Linked DNA regions of Homo sapiens. Changing the gene in region 2 together with the main gene of any one other region gives a genetic interaction. Each region holds a gene or a part of one and is shown on either strand. Other genes may lie near its edges.

Region 1 (3,657 bases), on a different chromosome or scaffold from region 2:
AAAAATTAGGCATGTTATCTTGAGCCTGTAGTTCCAGCTACTTGGGAGGCTGAAGTGGGAGGATCACTTGAGCCCAGGAGTCCAAGGCAAAAAAAAAAAAAAAAAAGGAAAGGTCTCTTCATTATATTAAGGCTACAAATAAAATATGTAACCAGGATAAACATAGCAAGACACAAAGGGTTACAATGATCAACAAAATTTCTCTTAGGTATTTAAATTTGCCTGTCCCCAAAAGAGTTATTTAGGGTTTTTGATTGACTAAATCTATAAAACAAAATGCTTCTCAGGGACTAGGCAGATGAGTGAAGTAATTCACTTAGGAATAGGACAATTCAATTTAGGAAAAGTGAACTATGTGTCATGACAAACAGAAATTATCTTGGAAGCAGTCTGTCCTGACCCTAGTCAAATCCATTCAGCTTGGCCCAAGGATCACTTCGGGAAGTGTATCCATTAGACAAAACTCTATGAAATCTCTAACTAAATTTTACCTAAATAGTTTTTAAATGTAAGTGCTCTACAGTAGTTCAAAGAACAGCTAGAGGAAGCTACAGATTTTCAGTGCCTTTCACTACAGAAAATAATGTTTCTCAGATAAATAACTTTATCATAGGAACAAAGCATCAGGGAGTCTATAGACAGATTATACTGATTCAAAGTATGAAGAGAAAATTAAATGGCTAGCTAGAATAAAGACTGTAGTGGTGAGGTATATAAGAGATGCATTTGTTTATAATAAAGCTAAATTTTAAAAGTTCAGTCTGCAATTACATGCGAAACTGAATACAAAGGACCTTTCTGGCGTATTAGATAGAATGCACAGATTTTTTTTTTTTTAAACCACAGATTTTTGAACCAGGAGGCGATGTCACAGGGCAAGTAAAGCGCCTTTAGTTCCTGACAATATGCTACCTAAAACAATGTCCATGACTTCAGTACTCCATTTCCTAAAGTTCTGGAGATAAAGGTCTTGAATGGGAAAGAAAGAGGTAATTAATTAGAAATTTTAGCCAAACTCCAGTAACTTAAAAACAAAGCAAAACTGAGCAAAGCAAAACAGACTAGCCATAATTAGGAGGACATATGCAAGTGCAGTTGCATTATCTTTAAGGCAAAAATCAACATAGGAAATAGGCTTGGTAATGGAATTAAAAATTTTGTACAGCAACATCATTTTTAACATTCAATGAACATGGCTACAGGCTAAATGTACGTCTGGTATGGAATAGACACTGAGCAATAAAACCAATAACTATTAAGAAAATTACTGATTTTACACCTCCCTGTAAGAACGATGCTTTTGACTATTTGCTGAACACTTATTATATAGTAAGCAACAGGAGGGATTAAAAGAAAGTCATTTCCAGATCTCATGAAGTTTACAATCTAAGCAAGAAGATTAAGATGTATACCTCTACTAAAGATGAGGATCCCAACTATACATCTCCATCAATCTTTATAACTCAAATAAATTATAACTGAAGTTTAGTAAAAGTCTTTAAGATGTCAGATAATTGGGCAGGGGTGTACATGGCTTTTTAAAATTCCACTTAATACTACTTAAATGAAGGACTGATGTGCCATGGGAAAATAAATTTCTATATTGGCTTCTTGGGGGCAGGCAGAGAAGTTAGAACAAGGTCAGGGGAAATCAGAGGACCTGGAGGGAACTCTTGCCCTCCACCCTCACTCCTGTCACTTTCTAACCTTTTTTATGGTGAAGCATCACACCCAGAAAAGCACAAAAATGAATTATTACATATTTAATACCACTCAAGTCAAGAAACAAACCAACCCCAGAAATCTTCCTTTGTGTCCCTCTCAATCACTACTTTCTCTCTCTCTCTCATTCTCCTGAAGGGAACCGCTATCCTGACTTTTATGACACGTTTTCCACCCAAGCACGCATCCTTAAATACTAGTTTGCCTGTTTCCTAAATTTTATATGCATTGAGTTATGTAGTTATTTTTTTGTGTCTGGCTTCTTTGACTCAATATGATTTGTGAGAATTATCCATGCTGTTTTATGTAGCTACAGCAGTTCACTTGTTTTCACTGTATGAATACAGTAAAATTTATCCATTCTACGGTTGACATTTGGGTTGTTTCCAATTTTTTGGTTATTACAAATGCTGCTGCTCTAGGCACTCTTGCACATGACTTGATGCACATGTGACTGTATTTGCTGGATATATAACTAGGAGTGACACTGCTGGGTCCAAGGGTATTTATACTGTCACCTTTAGTAGGTAAAATGTCAAACTGCCTTCCAAAGTGACTGTGCTAACGCATGCTCTCCAGTAACGCAAGAGGGCTCTTTGCTGTTGCTGTGCATCCTCATCAGCACTGGGAATGGTCAAGGTTTTTAATTTTAGCTATTCTGGTGGTGGGCATGTAGTGCTTTTTCATTACTGTCTTCACTTTTACTTTTCTGCTTTCTAATGAGTTGAGTGCCATAGTTCCTGGCAGGCCTGATCAACTCTTCCTCTTACTTCCATGTGTTTCGAGTTGCCCAGATAGGTGGAACATTATTATAATCTGAAGTAATAATTACCCAGTCTTTTGGTCAAATACCCTAGGGCACCCTGCAGCGAGAAACTTTCAATTACAAACTGATTTCTCCATTTTTAAGTTCTGATTTTTTGGGGCATGAGTCACATGGCCCATCTAACCCTCTGTTGAGTCTCACTTAATGCTTCTCCTTCTCCTAGCTCCTATTATAATCAAGGACAGTCAAATCATTTCTGACATATTCAAAGCATGTAATCGTAAGAGTAACCCTTCACCCACGTACCCCACCAATGATGCTGGCTACACCTACAACTTCTCCTGCTCTCCTATCTCTTTACAAATTCCTTGTTTCTTATTATTTTGGGAGTGGGCAGCTACAATCTTTTAAAAACTTCTGATTACTGTCTCCTTCAATCAGTCTGAAACACTCCTGACAAAATCTTAACACTAAATTTATACTTTCTTTTTCTCAAAACCTTCTCCCCAGTTGTTCCACATTGTTAATCATCCAGGACTTCCATCTCCTTAGCACCTACACCTCTCTGTTTCTCTGTTCATCTTTCTGGCTATTATTTCTTTGATTCTTGATAAATTCATCCTGTTTTCCATGTCATCCTTTCAATCTGTAATAATTTTATATTCCATAATCAAGTACTGGTCGGCCGTCTTTGTAATGGCTTCTTCATTATGTTCTTCTTTGAGGAAGTGAATTTTGCAGTCTATGCTAATCTGTCCTTATCCTATTGGCATCCACTGCTCAGAGCAGGCACTGAAGAAATGTTGTCAAGGATAATTTAGTACAACATAGCTGGCAGAGTTAAGAAAGACCATTTAGGTTGGGTGCAGTGGCTCATGCCTATAATCCCAGCACTTTGGGAGGCCAACACTGGAGGATCACTTGAGGTCAGGAGTTCAAGACCAGCCAGGGCAACATGGTGAAACCCCATCTCTACTAAAAATACAAAAATTAGCCAGGTGTGGTGGTGGGTGCCTGTAATCCCAGCTACTCGGGAGGCAGAGGCAGGAGAATCACTTGAACCCGGGAGGCGGAGGATGCAGTCAGCAGAGACTGCACCTCTGCACTCCAGCCTGGGTGACAGTGAGACTCTGTCTCAAAAAAAAAAAGAAAAAAAGCATTTAAAAAAG
Region 2 (3,657 bases):
TCTGGCCAGAACTGTCTTCACTGGAAATGTCCTCTTCTCCTCTCCAGTCTGGTATTGACATAGCTGCCATGTTCCTACAGTGACCCCAAACCTTGCTGGGTTGGACAAGTTGGTTGAGCCAGGGGTAGGCCCCTGACCCAGCTGGATCACTCAGGCTCTTCTCTAGGATTGCAGAACTGAGCCAACCTCTGAATGACTAACCACAGCATATGCTCTTGGGAACCAAAGAAAGCTGCCTCCCACCAAAATCATTTTCACAGACTTGTTTTTGCTTAAGCCAGGTTTTCATTACTTGCAGCCAGCTTTTTTTAAAAACTCTTTATTATTATACAAAATTTCAAACATCCAAAGTAGAATGGTATAACAAACTCTCAACAACTAGCTGCAACAATAACCAATCTTGTGTCATCTTGAACTCTACTTGCTTCCACTTACCTTTGGATTAAATTACATGAACTTATTTCATTTATGAATATTTCTGTATACAGCCAGTATTCCCTTGTGAAAATGTGTATAATCACACAAATTTAAATATACCTTTATTGAGTTTCTGCATCTGCATTTCATATTCTTCTGGAGGGATTTGAGTATGAAACACTGAGGAAAAGGTGTCTTCCTCCTCATGAGAAGGACCTGTTGATTTAAAAAATCACTTGTTCAATGCTCACAAAATAAATTAAGTAGTTGTCTACAAAATTGTTTTAAAAAGATAACATTTAATATTCTCTCCAGTGTTCCTCAGTCCCCTCCACACACATAAATTTCTTAAGACAATGTTAATGTCACCTCCAAGTAGAAATGACAATCACCTTTGTATACAGGAGCCAAATGAAACAAACTACAGAAGCTAAGATAGTTAAACAGCATTTCCCTAGAACTTAAGCACAAAAAGGATGTGTAAGAGTGTGCTAAAATAACACATTAACTCTCCAGAGATAATGCATCCAAATCTTGATGTTCATAATACAGAGAATATGCATACTGAGTAACTATAATTATGGTTTTCTCTTTTTATTTTAGGTCCCCAAGGTGGAGACTTCAAATATGCGATCAGTCATTAAGATAAAGGAATGTGAGAGAGAACTTGGGAGACTCTTAGCAGTTAACTTTCTTCTTTTCTGATGTATTTTCTTGGCACCTCCATAAAGAAGATAGATAGGACATTGTGTTTTTCAACTTAACTTTGTTTCAGTGTAGTTTATTTTTATGTTCTCCTATTAGCTAATTCGGACACTGTATATTTGCAAGACGCCGTTAACATAAACGTTTTATTAAAAGTGTGTCTCTGTACCCTAATGTGAGGGAATCTGCCAGGTTGCAGCACAGAAATGGTTTTGCCTCAGAAAATATGGGAAGTCTTGAGGATATTACAGGATCCACCACCTCTCCCAGAAAGCAAACCAAGTTCAGACACCCTCTATGAGCTGATACAGACAAAGGAAGCAGGCAGAAGATACATTCACCCTCAACACACATTCACCTAATTCAAAACACAAAACTTCTGCTACAAACACTAATTCATCAATTCCAATTCCCTAATTTGGAATTCATAATAATGAATTATGAACTGTGGTTAACATTACACTGTTAGTCTTTGTACAATCTTTGATGAGTTAATCAAGCAAATTTGTGGTGTAAGCCTGGGGAGAGAGGGGTAAACTACTTAGAAAACAAAAAGATTTAAAACTGTTTCTGAACTTTCAGTTTTTTGTTGCAACCACTATTATTAGGGGGTCTTCAATATTCATTAAAAGTAGGCTCAGCAAGTCAGCAATTTGGCAACATTTTATTATCAGTTTAAGTTACATTTACATCATAGTCCTGAAGTGGTAATATATTTTTCTATCCCATAATTCCTTTATGATAACAGTTTACTCAATTTTATATTAAAACACCTGTAAAGACACAAAAATATGAAAATTTACAATATGGAAAACCCTCACAGGTGATCAGCGACTATCTGAGACCAGTGTCATGCAGGTGGGTAAGAAGAATTTGAAATTACTCTTGTGACCCTGTGGCTCTTTGCCCATCTTCCCAGTGGTATTCATTGCCTCAGAGAGAGGTGTGTACTACATACAACAAAGGTGCCATCAATCGGCTTTGAGTTTAAAAGACAACAGTTTTAAAAGTTGGGCATTCAATTGCAAGAGCTTAACCCTTGGAGGAAAAAAAAAACATTTTCTGAATTCCACATCTCCCTTTAGAAAATTCTTCCTTCTTTTTCAAAAACAATTAACGTAGAAGAAATTATGGAATTAACCATTTAGTAACCATCATAACTGACTCAGGTAAGTATCACCAATGAACGATAAAACTAGTGGGTGACAGTTTGAGGAATAATAGGATAATAGCCTCAAAGTATCTATCTCCCCACAAGATAATTTATTAATTACCAAAGGAAAAATAGTAACTTTACCATGAAGAAACCTGGTAGACACCATTTTCATTTAAAGTGGCCAGAGTTAACATTGTGAGCATCAGGACAATCACCGTCATGCACTTCCTGATCTGATTCATTGAGAAGGACACTATCACTTCTGTGGGATTCCTGCCAAAAACTCATAACCTGAACCTAACCGAGCAGAAACAAACCAACCCAAACTAGAGGACATGCTACAAAATAATAGGCCTACTATCTTCAAAAATGCCTGTGTCATAAAACACCAAGACTAAAAGGTATGACAATAATGTAATGCATAGCCTGAGATTTTTCTTTTGCTATAAAGGATATTAGAGGGACAATTGGCAAAATCTCAATAAAGCCTATAGATAATTGCAAAATAATCATTTCCTGATTTATATGTATAATCGTGCATGTATGTGTGTATATGTGTGTCCTTGTGTGGAGAGGGAAAGAGAAAAGAGAATGTGGTAAAATGTTAACATTTGGAGACTCTGGATAGAGAGTATTTGAGAATCCTTTGTACTTTTCCTATGACTTTAAATCTGATCAAAATTCAAAGTTAATAAGAAAATTTTAAAAATTCCTCTCTTCACTACAAACATTCATGTGAGAAGGAAAAAAAAATCTCCCTTTAGAGATCATGAGCCAAAACATTGATGATTGAGCAAGTTTTTAATATGAGTCCTGAAAGAGGAAGATTGCAGGATGTGATTTAAATTGCTTCCTGCCACCCATGGAAGAAATTAAAGCCCATCCCAAATAAGGACCTAGAGGACCTGGAAGACCAGCAGAGGGGATGAGTTTAGAGTAGACACAAGTGATACAGGTATTAAGCTGCTCCCCGGCACAGCCCCTGGAGGTGAAATCCTGGAGGTGCATAGAGAACCTGAAGAGGCTGGAGAAACCCACAGCAGAGTGAGCTCTGCCTCACTGTACACCTGGAACTGAGGGGAGACCCCGCACAAAGGAACATGGTGCTCTCCAACCACCCATGACAGCTGCAGACAAGCAAAGGCAGTGTGGCATGCTTACAGGGAGACAGAGGCTGAAGTAGTCTGTCTGTCTGTCTGTCTGTCTCTCTCTCTCTCTCTCTCCCCCTCAGTCACACACACACACACACACACACACACACACACAGTTCCCCACAGCTGGCCAGCCTGTGGCTTGAAGGAGAACAGAAGCTCTCACATGCCCCTGTGAAGAAGACTGGGGTCGTGATGAGGGGGTGGCATAGAGCCTTCCACCAGAGA

Evidence for each region. A genetic interaction does not mean that the proteins touch.
Region 1: changes in FSIP1 (region 2) and SPPL3 together harm fitness less than expected from each alone (positive genetic interaction), as found in Homo sapiens cells (one large-scale study listed by BioGRID).

Annotation. Positions count from the first base shown.
Region 1 is NC_000012.12:120,785,827-120,789,483, forward strand, and holds part of SPPL3 (signal peptide peptidase-like 3), read right to left. Parts: intron 1-3,657.
Region 2 is NC_000015.10:39,741,268-39,744,924, forward strand, and holds part of FSIP1 (fibrous sheath-interacting protein 1), read right to left. Parts: intron 634-3,657; coding exon 538-633; intron 1-537.